Homo sapiens: one gene and its partner. The protein of the gene in region 1 interacts with the protein of each later gene in a biochemical or structural test. Each region holds a gene or a part of one and is shown in the gene's direction. Other genes may lie near its edges.

Region 1 (7,344 bases):
CAACATGGTGAAACCCCATCTCTACTAAAAATACAAAAATTAGCTGGGCATGGTGGCACATGCCTGTTTAATCCCAGCTACTAGGGAGGCTGAGGCAGGAGAATCACTTGAACCAGGGAGTCGGAGGTTGCAGTGAGCGGAGATCACGCCACTGCACTCCAGCCTGGCGACAGAGCAAGACTCCATCTAAAAAAAAAAAAGTAACCTAAAAGACTGGTTCAGACCATGAACAAAAGTGAGGGTCTGGGCCATGCCTCATTATACCTCTCCGGCATTAACATCAACACAGACCTTAAGTCTGATAAGAGGCATTTACAATCTATTCTCTCCGTAGCCTGCTACCTGAAGGCTTCCTCTGCACAATAAGAACTTTGGTCTTCACAATCCTTTAACCCAGACATTTGCTTTCTATTGATCCCAGGTCTTTAGATAAACTCAACCAATTGTCAACCAGAAAATTTTTAAATCTGCATATAACCTGGAGGGCCCCCCACCCCCACCCTGTGCCTGGCTTCAAGTTGTTCCGTGTTTCTGAACTGAACCAATGTATTTCTTAAATTGTGAACCGAACCAATGTACTTCTTAAATGTATTTGATTGAAGTCTCATGTCTCCCTAAAATGTACAAAACTAAGCTGCACCTCAACCACCTTGGGCACCTGTTCTCAGGACCTCCTGAGGGCTGTGTCATGGGCCATGGTCACTCATATTTGGCTCTTAATGAATCTCTTCAAATATTTTACAGAGTTTGACTCTTTTTGTCAACAACACTATGAAGGGATTTGAGGGAAGGAAATAGCGGGGCTCACCTTTGTGACAGGGATCTTCTGGGGGAAAACCCATGGTCACCCCAGTAGACTCCAGAAGTAGTACATCCTTGTTCCAGATCTGGCCCATAGTTTATATTTGCAAGACTCTTGACTAGCAGGACACAAAGAGCCACCTAATGGGTTTGACACAACCACCAAGACCAGAGAATAATGCATAAAGCTGGAATGTCAATTTGCTACTGCTATACAGTAGGAGTTGGATATTTAGGTTCACTGATCTCCACTTCTATCTATGAAGACAAATCCACAGGGAAAGAAGTCCCAAATCACCAAGAGGTTGTTTGGACCCTAACCTCTAAACAATGGGTTTGTGTTGGATGAGTTTAATGAGAATGAGCTTAATGAGGGGGAAAAAAGCAGGCTAGCAGGCTATCACCAACTTAAAATAGCAGGTTCTCTCCTACAGAGATAGAGACCCTCGTTAGTCCCAGCCCATCCACAGATATAGTTGTATTAGTTTCCAAGGATTGCTTTAGAGTTTCCGAGGAAGTACAAAAACTGAGTGGCTTAAAACAACAGAAATTTATTACCTGACAGTTCTGGAAGCAAGAGGTCCCAAATTGAGGTGTAGGCAGAGTAATGCTTTTTCTGAAACCTACAAGGGAGAACCCTTTCTTGTCTCTTCTAGATTTGGATGTCTGCTGGCAATCCTTGGAGTTCCCTGGTTTGCAGGTGCTTCCCTCCAGTCTCCACCTTTGTTGGCAAGTGGCTCTTTTCTCCTCGTGTATCTCCCCTTCTCATAAGGACACCAGCTACGCTGGATGATGATCTCATAACTAAACTAACCTGCAACAAACCTATTTCCAAATAGGGTCATTAAGGTCATATTCTTTTTTTTTTTTTTTTTTTTTTTGAGTCTGAGTATCTCTCTGTTGCCCAGGCTGGAGTGTAGTGGCTCAATCTCCACTCACTGCAACCTTCACCCTGCCAGGTTCAAGCGATTCTCCCACCTCTGCCTCCAGTAGCTGGGATTACAGGCATGTGCCACCACACTCGGCTAATTTTTGTGTTTTTCTTTTTCTTTTCTTTTTTTCTTTCTTTTTTTTTGAGACGGAGTTTCACTCTTGTTGCCCAGGCTGGAGTGCAATGGCACAATCTCGGTTCACTGCAACCTCCCCCTCCCGGGTTCAAGTGATTCTCCTGCCTCGGCCTCTCGAATAGCTGGGATTACAGGCATGCACCACCACACCCGGCTAATTTTGTATTTTTAGTAGAGACGGCGTTTCTCCATGTTGGGCAGGCTGGTCTCGAACACCCGACCTCAGGTGATCCGCCCACCTCAGCCTCCCAAAGTGCTGGGATTACAGATGTGAGCCACCACGCCTGGTTAATTTTTGTATTTTTAGCAGAGATGGGGTTTCACCATATTGCCCAGGCTGGTCTCGAACTCCTGGCCTCAAGCGATCCACCAGTCTCGGCCTCCCAAAGTGCTGGGATTGCGGGTGTGAGCCACTGCACCCGGCCCAAATAGGGTCATATTCTGAAGCACTGGAAGTTAGGGCTTCAACATATCTTTGAGGGGGACACATTGCAACCCATACAGTATTCTTGGAACTGTAAATCGCGTTTTTGTACTAGAAATTCACTGCCCCTTTAGGCACTATGTATTCCTCTAATCTTATTTGTTACTCTTTTACGACTTTAAGAAATACAGAATTTGGTCAGTTTTAGCTGAGAGAGTAAACTTTGATGACTTGCATCAAACAGGGACTGGCACACAACTCCTGGAATTTCCAGTAAGAGAATGTGAATGGGGGACAGTTGCCGACTAGGTGCCTGAAAGATCATTTTTCAAGAAACACGTCAACAAACTTTGAGGGATACATGATAATTAAAAAACTAGCTTCAACCCGGGAGGCGGAGGTTGCAGTGAGCTGAGCCAAGATCGTGCCAGTGCGCTCCAGACTGTGCGACAGAGTGAGACTCCGTCTCAAACAAACAAACAACTAGCCCTTATAATCTTTTTTTTTTTTTTTTAGACAGGTGCATCTTTACACAGTTAAATTTCACTACTTCTTTTTTTGCAGATAAAAACTCAGGAGTTGAGAAATGAATAAACATAATAATAAATATGAGAAAACCATCATGATTTATCAAGCCTGGATAAATAATTTAATAAGTTCAGCATAGAAGACCTTGCTTTTTTTTCTTTCCTCCTTTTCTTCTTCTTTTTTTTTAACTTATTTATTTCAATAGGTTTTTGGGGAGCAGGTGGTGTTTGGTTACATGAATAAGTTCTTTAGTGGTGATTTGAGAGTTTGGTGCACCCATCACCTAGGCAGTGGACACTGCACCCAATGTGTAGTCGTTTATCCCTCACCTACTCTCACCCTAGCCCTTATAATCTTAAGATTTTTGGCTATTTAGGGCCATCTCATTCCTCCCTCCCTTCTTTGTTGCATTCTCTCTCACCTACTCCATTCCCCCCACCTTCCAAGTAAGACCATCTTTGGTAAGATGGTCTTGGTAAGAATGTGATACGCATTATAATAATTTTTCAAATCTTCAAAATTGAGGTATAATTACATACAATAAAATGAGAATGGCATGCAAATTTGTGCCTTTTTTAAAGCTTAGTAAATGTCATAATTTGGTTATAGTTTTTATTTTTCTGGATGCATTTGCTTTTCCTTACATCTACCATGCTCAGCCTTACAGAGATTTTTCTAGATGAATTTGCTTTTTCTCACATCTACCATGCTCGGCCTTACAGAGCTGCCCTTTATTTTAGAATTCCCTAAAGTGCTGTGTTGTACACAGGGAGCTTCTCCTGACTGGAACAACCTTACCTGGTACCACTCTTCCTTCAGGACCCAGATTCTTCTTTGAAACCTTTCCCTGGCCCCTTTGAATACTCTAGCTCTTTTAAAATGTATGTGGTTCTTTTTTCCCTGTTCAATTATTAATCTAACTAGGTTGTGAGTTCCTCCTCCAAGGACGTGAGGGTGCGATGTAGCTTGTCTGATTTTGCATTCCAAGTGTGTGCCCCAATGCCTGACACATAGTAGGTGCTCAATATATGTTTACTGTCAATAAGTTACAATTAACACCCCCATATGGTAATTCAGAGTTTTCATAGCGCGGTCAAACGATCTCATTTAACGCCTACTACAACCCTAAAAAATTCTAATTACTACCATCCTATCATTCTTGTTTGTAGAGTGTGGAGACTGAGAGGTTAACTGTCTTGCCCAGCGCAAGTCAACAGCAAAACGGAACTAAAATTTCAGGCTCGACACCACACAGCGTGTCGAGATCAGCACGAACTTGGCGCTGTGACTTTTCCTTAGAGGGGCCACTTAGGCTTACACTTCCGGATCCTGGGCACACAGAGACGCGAAAAGCTCCCGCGGGAAACTGGGGAGCGGGACTACATCTCCCAGAGAGCCCCGGGGCTAAACAGCAGGTGATTGGTTGATATTGACAGCCAATGCGGCTGCGAGGAGCTCGGGCAGACCAATCACAGGCCGGAAGGGGCGGGACCTCCCACGCCGAGGATAGATTGAGCGCAGAACTAACCGCGCTCTGAAAGGTTCTAAATGTCTGCGGGGCTCAGAGCCGGATGTCACGTCGTCCTCCTCTGCCGGTTTTCTCTTGGGTCCTTTTCCGTGCCGTCCCGCGACTCCGCCTCTGGCCGCGCGTGTCTGGCTGCTAGGCCGACACCAAGGACTGGCCGGGTACCCGGGAAGAAAGCACGTGCTCCAGCAGTTGCCGCGCCCAGCCCCGAGAGAGGCCCTAGGGCGCTGCGGGCTTTCGGGGTCCGCAGTCCCCCCGCGACGCGAGCCAACGGGAGGCGTCAAAAGACCCGGGCCTTGTGTGGCAGGCTCGCCTGGCGCTGGCTGGCGTGGCCCTTGGCCGTCGTCACCTGTGGAGAGCACGTCTTCTCTGCCGCGCCCTCTGCGCAAGGAGGAGACTCGACAACATGTCACCCGCGCTCCAAGACCTGTCGCAACCCGGTAACGCTGCGACCCCGTCTGCGTGGTTGGGTTGTGTTTCTTAACTCGTGCTGTGGCCTCCTAATCCCTGGGGCGATTCCCTTCTGCGGCGGGAGACGCCCGGCGGTGTTTCCCCGCGTGTGGGCGGCACCTTTAGAACTTAGCGCAGGAGCCCGGAGGGCTACGTGTTTTGCTCCACTCTTTGTCCGACCTTCACCTCTTTCTCCCCAGGCAAGCCATCAAAACCTGCAAAAAGCGTCCTCCCCTCGCCCCCGAAACACATTCTTAACGTCACAGTAACTAAACTTTCCAGTTCCACGCAGCATAAACCAGCTGGGCCCTCTGGAAGTTTTTTTTTTTGCATGGTGTGACGCTTATTCGTAAATATGTATTGCGCACCTACTGCGAAAGAAAGTTCAGGCGCGGAGAGACAGACGAGGAAACTCAGAGAACTATTTAAAACTACTACATGGAACTTTTTATTTTCTGCTTCTACGCACGCTGCTGCAAAACTGCAATATGCATAGACTCACTATGTTAAAATAGATGAGCAGACCCCACCTCCAGATACCGAAATGGGAGGTAGTAATTTCAAGCGATTCTGATGTTGGTGGCCCTGGGATCAACAGTGAGAAAAAGCTAGTTTAGCACGAGAACTGAACGTAATGTTAGCTTTATAACGAGCTCTAGATCTCTAAGGTCATGCCTGATTATAATTTGAGGACAAATACACCCGTAAAAACGGGTGAGGAGATGTAGAAACGAGAATTAGTGATAAGTACAAAACAGTAAATATCCTATCACATAGTGGGGATGTTTAGCTTCAGGAAGAGGGGGAATACTAAATTCGTAACGCACAAGGAAATTTATCAGAGGTTAACCGGTGACTCTCTTGATTCTTGGGTTCTGATAACGGGACTGATATAATTGTTCTTGAAACTAGTGGAACTGTGGCTGAGAAACACATCACTGCTGTTATTAAATAAGATATAAACCTCCCTATGAGAGGTTTATATGTTATTTAATATATTAAATAAGATGTAATGAGGTTACATCTTATTTATATTTAATATTTAATTAATAAATGTAAACCTCCCTATAAGAGATTTATATCTTATTGAATAAATGATCATAGGGAGATCATATTTATTTGGAAAACATCTTTTACTCATGATTTCTGGCCTCCCCCTTCCCATTTAATTTAAACAAGTAAAGTTATTTCCCTTTCATCTGAATTTAGGTGTCATTATCAGGAGCAAAATGCCACTGAAGACTTAAAATACTGTGAATAGTGAGTGATTTAAAAAAAAAAAATAAACTGAAAGGAAAATTGTTGAATGTTTGAATCTTGCCTAGTCCCCTCACCCCCAAGGCTGGCTTCTAGAGTTGAGCACTGAGTGGAGTTTAACCAAGTCTAGGGCCTCTGAAGTTCTGAATCAGGCCATTGTGCCTAGAAAAGACCTTAGATGTAGTCCAGCTTCTGTCTATGTGAGCAACTTTTATTGGGATTAGAATCAGGTTTTAACTTCCTAATAACCCTTAGTAATTTACTGGCGTACAATCTTAATGAAATTTTAATGGAGAGCTGGGAATTCCTGATTCTCAAGGTTGGGCCTTAAAACTAAATGTGACTTCAGACCATGGTTGTGTGCCCTGGGGAAGGAGGATGGTGGGCTAGCAAATACATCTTGGGAGAAAATTTTAACTACAGCTTCTAAAAGTTTCTTGGTTTCATCCTTGCTTAGGACTGTGAGTGTTATTTGGAACTCAATTGATGAGTGATTAATGAAGGAATGAATAATCCAGTGAATTGGTATCAATTGATGAGTGATTAATGAAGGAATGAATAATCCAGTGAATTGGTATCAGCCTAATTCTTCTCCGGCTTATTAAAATCAAAGGGGGAAATAATATATATTAAAAATGGAATACTGCACAAGCAAAGAGATGCCCCCAAAGAAGCTGGGCGCGGTGGCTCATATCTGTAATCCCAGCACTTTGGGAGGCCGAGGCGTGCGGGTCACCTGAGGTCAGGAGTTCGAGACCAGCCTGGCCAACATGGTGAAACCCCATCTGTACTAAAAATACAAAAATTAGCTGGGTTTATAGTGAGCGCCTATAACCCCAGCTACTCAGGAGGCTGAGGCAGGAGAATCGCTTGAACCCTGGAGGCTGAGGTTGCAGTGAGCCGAGATCATGCCACTGCACTCCATCCTGGGTGAGAGAGTGAGACTTAGTCTCCAAAAAAAAACAAAACAAAACAAAACAAAACCAAAAAAACAAAGTGTAGCAAGTCTGTGCAAACTAGAAATTAGAGATCCAAAAATGAAAGAGAGAAGTATCTTGCAAGTGACTTGTAGGGCAGTAGTAAGATTGTTTTTAATAAAGCAAAGAAAGAACAGTGCTGAGAAAGCCTTGGGATCATTTGATTATAATGCAGAAAATAAAAATGTGCTTTTGCTGTATGTGTTCCCCATTTAGCACAGTGGAAAGAGGGGTCCTAAGTAAGTCAGATCTATTTGGGGTCATTTTACCTTCAGAGCAGATGTGTTCTTGACACTGCAATTTATAACTTACATG
Region 2 (7,037 bases), on another chromosome or scaffold:
TAAACAACTATGGGCTATTGTTTTTGCACTTGTACTTCATTATTTTGTGAATTGTTTAAGTGAGATAATTGCAGTAAGTGTATCTCAGTCTGGTTTGGGAACAGACACAACTTATGCCTGGACTGGTGGGAGCAGAGTGCAGTGTTGCACCACAGACAGGATCAGTTCATGGCAGCGGGGATAGAGATTAATCATTAATCTGACTAGGAGTTTTAAATTAGCCGGAAGATCTGTTAAGAGTTTATGGGTTTTTTCCGGGAGGCGGAGGTTGCAGTGAGCCAAGATTGCGCCACTGCACTCCAGCCTGAGCGACAGAGTAAGACTCCGTCTCAAAAAAAAAAAAAAAAAAAAAAAGTTTCTGGGTTTTTTCTTAATAGAAAGTGTCATTAAATAGGCTTGAGTTGTTAATAATGTAGTTAAAAGATTTAACAAATCTGAAGTACTTAAGAGAGACAATATAAATATGAAATAATATACTGAGAGAGTAAAGAATTGGGAAAAAAAGAATGTTTTGTAGGGCATCCTCTTGGGACCATTGCCTTGAGGCACAGAGGGGTTGGAAGCAGGATTGGGCACAGTGAGAAGCTGAGCTGCGATGCAGTCTCAACAAAGGCCTCAGTCAGCTCCTCTCCATATGGTACCTTTCTGCCATGTGGAAGTATTACCTCTAATAACCAGAGGGTCTTCTGGGTTGTGTGGTAGAGCGGCAGGACCTGTTAACGAGCACTGTCACTTGGATCTGCTGTAGAGCCCTCTCCTGCTCTGGGCCCCACGCAAAGCTGGTGGCCTTTTCTGTCACCTGGTATTTGGGTCTCAGCAGTCCTCCCAGGTATGGAATGTGCTACCCACAGATCCTGAAGAGACTTAGCAGTGGTTCTGCTTCTCTCTAGAAGTGAGGTACAAGGTGCACTAGTGTGGCCTTCACTTGGGAGGGGATGTCCTGACGTGCACCAAACTGTTAGAACCCTAAAAATTGTGCTGGCACTGCAGGCCCTTTAATTGCATAGGGCATGGGTCTTACCAAAGACCGCACTGTCCTGGCTACTCCTCGTTGCTCATTCAGTCTGATAGCACGATGCCCCTGATAGAGTAGGCTAGTGTGGTGCTTTGCAGGTGTTCCACATTTATTCAGACTCTTATAACAGCAGGCAGGACTTATGATAGCCCTGGGGCATAATTGTAAATTTATACATTGTTCCAGCGCAAAGTGAACTGTTTCTGATCCTCTTTAGTGATAGGGTTGGGAAGGAGCACTTTGACTAAATCATTGTCCGTGTACCTGAGGCCATGCTAGTCTACTTTGTTAAGGAAAACCAGCTTGCACGGAGGTTACAGTGGACCTGTTTCTTGTTTGAGTTTCCAGTAGTTCAGTGTCATCCCCCAGGATTTATGTGGTTTTTGCAGTGGTCAAACTGGTGAATTAAATGGAGATACGATAGAGACCATCCCCTGTGTCCTCCAGCTTTTTAAGGATGTCATTTCTCTCAGGATGCTATTTTGTTTCTCTTGTTCTATCTTGGTGTTTAGGGAGGAGGATGGCGTCAAATTCAGAGACTTCTTCTTGGCCCTCCCCATGATGATAGATCTTAACGTCATAGGCCAATAATTCGGTGTTGCCCTGTGCCAGCTGCTGAGTGGCCACTGGAGGTCCTGGGCCAGGACGCCATTTACCGCCTGGCCCCCATGTGCCTTGCTGTCATAGATGAGCTATGCTGATGCTTTGGGTCCCTGGGTAACAACATTCATTTGAACCCCCTCTTAACAGACCCTGGAATGTTTGCACATTCCCCTTAGCCCAGTGTACATTTCCCCTTTGGGAGAAGGACTGCAGAAGCCATTGTCAAGTACAGTTTCTATAGTGTCTCACAGTCCCTCCTCCTAGGGACCTCTTCTCTCCTACAGTCAGTGGGTTGCAGGTCTGGAAACAGGGCAAAGGATCGTTTTTATTGGAGCAGCGGCCTACAGCTCCTTTTACATGCCTCCTTGATTTCTTTTCATTGTAAGGATTGATCCAGTGCCTTTGTGGGCTGCCCATTTTTTACATCTGTGTTCTGCCCTCCTCAATTTAGGACCTCAGCTGTGTTGTGTGCATTCTCTCCTAGCTCCTGTGGGGGCATAGTGCTCTGTCGTATACTTTCTTAGGGGTTAGTCCCTTACCTTCCTTAGCTAGCCCAGTGCTTTAGTGGCCGAGTGTGTCGCAACAACCCCAGTTATTGGTCTAGCAACCAGAAGAGGGGATGGGGTGTGGTAGTGGGGGTACAGGCATGTGCTGTGGGCAGAGGTCCTTACACCATCCAGATGCGAGAAGGGAGTTCTTACTCTTCATGGGAGGGACTGGCCACATCTGCAGGCTCAAAGAGTTCAAGGGAATCTGGGTAGGAAGATTTTTAAGGGAATCTGGGTAGTCAAGATTTTTAAGGCGTTCTGGGTAGTCAAGATTTTTAAGGGAATCTGAGTATTCAAGATTTTTTTTCCCAGTTAGTCCTTGGCTTTCTCTGCCTTCACTGTCATGGGCTGCATGAGATGACTGTGTCTTTCTAAGCTCCTGAGGATGTCCCCTGGCTTAGTTCTATTTTAGTTTTACTTAGTTCTTAATTGGTGATTTGTCCTTTAAGCTTTTTGCATTTTTTTTCAAGTGCGAGTGAATTTTAGCAGTAGCCCCCCAAGTCCCACCAGTCTTCTCTTCTGCTGTTTCTCTCTAGTTCTCAAGCACCTGATGGATCTTGCAAGGTGATGCATTTGCTTCCACTGGCACTCCCTGCTACTTACGGTTGCATTGTTGCTGTGTGCCAGTGCCGTCTGTCTGCTCTCTCACTGGTGTGGTGTTCTCATTGTCAAACAGGCAGATGATCCAGCTCTAGACTCCATTTTAGCATCTTTCCCAGGCTACCCTGGCACTGACTGTCACAGGCTGGTTCCCAGGAGTCAAACAATGAGATGTTTTTAGGGCATCCTCTTGACAGCATCATCTTTGGGCATGGAGGGATGGAAGCAGGATTGGGCACAGTGAGAAGCTGAGCTGCTGTGCAGTCTCAGCAAAGGCCTCAGCCAATCCCACAGGGTTCTCTGGAGCTGGTGGGTCTTCAGAGTTGTCCTGAGTTGGAACGAAGAGGCTGGACCTTTGTAGTCTTTGATGAGACATTGGATGTGGGTTGCCTCTGAAAGGAGGTGTGGGCAGGGGTAAGGTGTGACCTAAGAATGCTGAAGTGTTTCTTTCAGGTGGCAGAGGTAGTCATTGTCAGCACTGCCATAGCCTTTGCAGAAGGCAGTCTTCTTAGGGGTACATCTCAGTACCCCCACATTATGGCTCCCAGACACCCAGAACTGACCTTCATCCCAGCTTTCCCATATAGCCACTTATCCACAGTTAATTGACTAGTACTGTTAAAATATTTTGTTTTTAAACTTAGGAATATAGAAAAGGAGTAGGGAGTATTATAAAGAACTGGGATTTTTTGCAGTTTTCCAAGACCTACTGTGTCCAGTACAGGAGCTGCTGGCCACATATAGCTACTCAAATTTAAATTAATGAACATTTGTTAAGATTAATAATTAGTTTCTTAGTGACACTACCTGTATTTCACCAGCCATATTTCAGCAGCCATATGAACAGCATTGCCCCACACTAGGGGGTTCCTGTGACCATCTACACACATGTTGCATTCTTAAACATCTGTCACATTCTTCAAGATCTCTCCTTCCTGAAACATTTGCAGACATTCTGTTTCCCTTGACGTAGTTTATTAGGAAAACTACTAGATCTTTACATGAACATGCCAGTATTTTTATTTTCTATTTGTATTTCAGAAATTCTAATGTCTAATAGATAAAGCGTTTGAGATAGAATTGAGCTTCTCTTCTGAAAAGCTAGCTCCATATATCTGCCCTCATTCATTTACCTTGGAAATGAATACTGAGTAGCCAGGAAGTTTTGTAAGCCCCTGTGGATCTTGCGTAGTCACTAATTGAAAGAAGGGTATAATTGAAAATTGCACTTACGTTTTGTCACATTTGTTTTTCAAGGAGGAAAGCCAAGTATCTGTGACTTCAGCAGATCCAGTTTTTCAAGTGCCAATTTCAAAGGCAGTTCAACTTACTACGAATGATGCCATAAAAACCACTCTGCTGGTAGAATTGGACATTTCAGTAAGTTGCAAAATTTATTTCTCAGCACAGTAATATTGTCAGGATGTGCAGAAAGAGTTGTGTGGTGCTTGGTTATATATGCTGAGTGGTGTGCTGCTTGGTTACATATGCTGAGTTGTGTGCGGCTTGGTTACATGTGCTGAGTTGTGTGGTGCTTGGTTACATATGCTGAGTTGTGTGGTGCTTGGTTACATATGCTGAGTTGTGTGGTGCTTGGTTACATATGCTGAGTTGTGTGGTGCTTGGTTACATATGCTGAGTTGTGTGGTGCTTGGTTACATATGCTGAGTTGTGTGGTGCTTGGTTATGTATGCTGAGTTGTGTGGTGCTTGGTTATACATGCTCAGAAGAATGAGAGGTCTCTGACAGGACATCTTGCCATTTTATTCCTGACCCATCATTTTTTTCTCTCTTCTATTTTCACACCTATTTTCTTTCCACTTCAGGGAAGGACTAGGGAAGAATGGCTGGAGGAGATTCAGCCTGAGAGGAAGATGCTGGCTTACTCAATAAGCCATGAAAGAATAATGGGATCAGAACAGCATTTTATATATAAGAGGCCCAGGAAAGGAAGCTGTCCACTAAGGTCAGCCAGGAAGTTAGAAATAGAGCCTAAGGTCAAACGAGGTGGCTCTCGCCTATAATCCCAGCACTTTGGGAGGCTGAAGGCGGTCACTTGAACCCAGGAGTTCCTGGGTAACATGGCAAGACCTTGTCTCTACAAAAAAATACAATAAGTAGCTGGGCATGGTGGTGTGTACCGATGGTCCCAGCTACTTGGGAGGCTGAGGTGGGAGGACTGCTTGAGCCTGGGAGGTTGAGACTACAGTGGGCTGTAATTGTGCCACTGCACTCCAGCCTGGGTGACAGAGTGAGACCCTGCCTCAATTTTTTTAAAAAAAGAAAAGAAATAGAACCCAGACAGGCAGGTTAGGGTTAATTCCTCAGAGCAGTGGTTTTGATTTCTTGAGAATCTGGAAAAAATTATGGACTCTCCCAAAAAATGATTACACTTGTCCCTTAGTATCTTCGAAGGATTTGTCCCAGGACCCCTTTCAGATACCCAAATCCTCAAAGCTCAAGTCCCTTATGTAAAATGTTACAGTATTTGTATATAATCTATGCACATCCTCCCCTACACTTTAAGTCATCTGTAGATTACTTACAGTATCTAACACCACGTAAGTAGTTGCTATACTGTATTTTTAAGTTTACATTATTTTTATTGTTATTTTTTATTGTTTTTTTCCGTCCCAAATATTTTCCATTCAGGTTTGGTTGATTCTGAGGGTGGAGAACCTGAGGATATGGAGGGCCAACTGTATATAGAAACATTTACGTACAGTTTTAGTCTGAGATGTGCCTCGATGCACCCCCTCCATGGGCCCCCTTCCTACCCTCCACACCCTGCTGGAATCCATTGACCTTAGGTTAAGAAACTGACTGATAATCCTAAAATAAGTGTTTGAGTACCTCTTCAAAGTCATTTAGCTCAACCGTTTATTTTATGAAAGTCTTGAGAGGTTAAGTGGGTTATTCTTTCAGAAAAGCAAGGGCACATTAAGGCTGTTGGTGTAGATTTAATCAAACTTCCTAACAGAAAAAAATACAATGTGTCAAAACTAGATGGTTTTGCATCCATAAATATTAATACTATGTACACCAAAATATTTTTTATTCTGGTATTTTACATTTTTGTCATAAAGAGGCAAGGGTTGGTCTGTGCTTAGTCCAGTCTCTCTCCCTTGCTGGCAAGAAATGTGAGCTTGTGTCATTGTGAGAGGCTCCTCCCCAGAGCCCTGGCCTGCATCTGTATCACTCTGGGGCTTAGAGGCAATGGGCCTAGTAATAGACTTGACTTGGGAAGTGGTGACTTTTTCAGCCCATGTTTGCTCACAACCAGTATCGAGCCAGATAGTGTAATGTTTTATACTTAAGGAAATAAAGTACCCTTTCCTGTCCCCTAAAGGAAAAGAGTAAAGTAAGGAGAAGAAAATTGAAAACCAATGCATTTGACCATAATTAGTTTCTTTTGGTCATAATGTATGTTTTCGTGTGTGTGTGCATGTATGTTTTTGTAAGAGGGATTTTTATATTTACATGGGTTATTGAAAACACCATAGGACCTTACTTTGTAGAGAACAAGGAAGGTCTGACTTCCATTCTTTAAGTATGATAAAAGGCAAAACACTGGGTAACTACCAGATTTCGTTTTAATAGTAACTGCTAATAATGAAAGTATGTTTATTTGGTTAGTTGGGCTTATTTTTTAAAACAATTGTGTGTTTTTTTTTTTGAAATTCTATTTTCTGAGTTCACATATTAAAATCATAATATTGAAAACTATATTTTTGTTACCCTACAGCTTAAACTATGTAACACGTATAATGTATTTTTTTTTTTTCATTTTGGCTCTTCTCTAGAATACAGACTTTTCCTATCAGCCTGGAGATGCCTTCAGCGTGATCTGCCCTAACAGTGATTCTGAGGTACAAAGCCTACTCCAAAGACTGCAGCTTGAAGATAAAAGAGAGCACTGCGTCCTTTTGAAAATAAAGGCAGACACAAAGAAGAAAGGTAACAGCCCTGATGCTGTGACGTTGGGGTGTTGTGGGCCAGTGGACTGGAGCTGATGGTGAGAGTGTGGCTCTAAGGTTCAGGGTCCTGTGTGTTGGCCGCACAGATGCCTGGGGCTCAGCTGCGCATCAAGGTCTGGGAACACAGGCATACGCTGGTATTGGTAGTTTCTTAACTTTCATGTTAATTGCACTGAATAAGAAGATAATGGATGTTCTAATTATTGGACATTTGTGGACATGAAAACTGAGTGTAAATGTAGTTTTTGAGAAGCATTGGCCTAGGTTATTTTTAAAAATTCTTTTCCTATTATG

The links. Proteins that work in one complex are often made in the same cells at the same time.
Region 2: the proteins of MTR (region 1) and MTRR are reported together in a solved structure, tested with the Homo sapiens proteins (one study listed by BioGRID).

The regions. Positions count from the first base shown.
Region 1 is NC_000001.11:236,790,953-236,798,296, forward strand, and holds the start of MTR (methionine synthase), read left to right. Parts: upstream 1-4,339; 5' UTR 4,340-4,368; coding exon of another isoform or gene 4,369-4,751; coding exon 4,752-4,785; intron 4,786-7,344. UniProt on the Homo sapiens protein: Catalyzes the transfer of a methyl group from methylcob(III)alamin (MeCbl) to homocysteine, yielding enzyme-bound cob(I)alamin and methionine in the cytosol. MeCbl is an active form of cobalamin (vitamin B12) used as a cofactor for methionine biosynthesis.
Region 2 is NC_000005.10:7,879,132-7,886,168, forward strand, and holds part of MTRR (methionine synthase reductase), read left to right. Parts: intron 1-4,023; coding exon 4,024-4,146; intron 4,147-4,592; coding exon of another isoform or gene 4,593-4,732; intron 4,733-6,569; coding exon 6,570-6,723; intron 6,724-7,037. UniProt on the Homo sapiens protein: Key enzyme in methionine and folate homeostasis responsible for the reactivation of methionine synthase (MTR/MS) activity by catalyzing the reductive methylation of MTR-bound cob(II)alamin.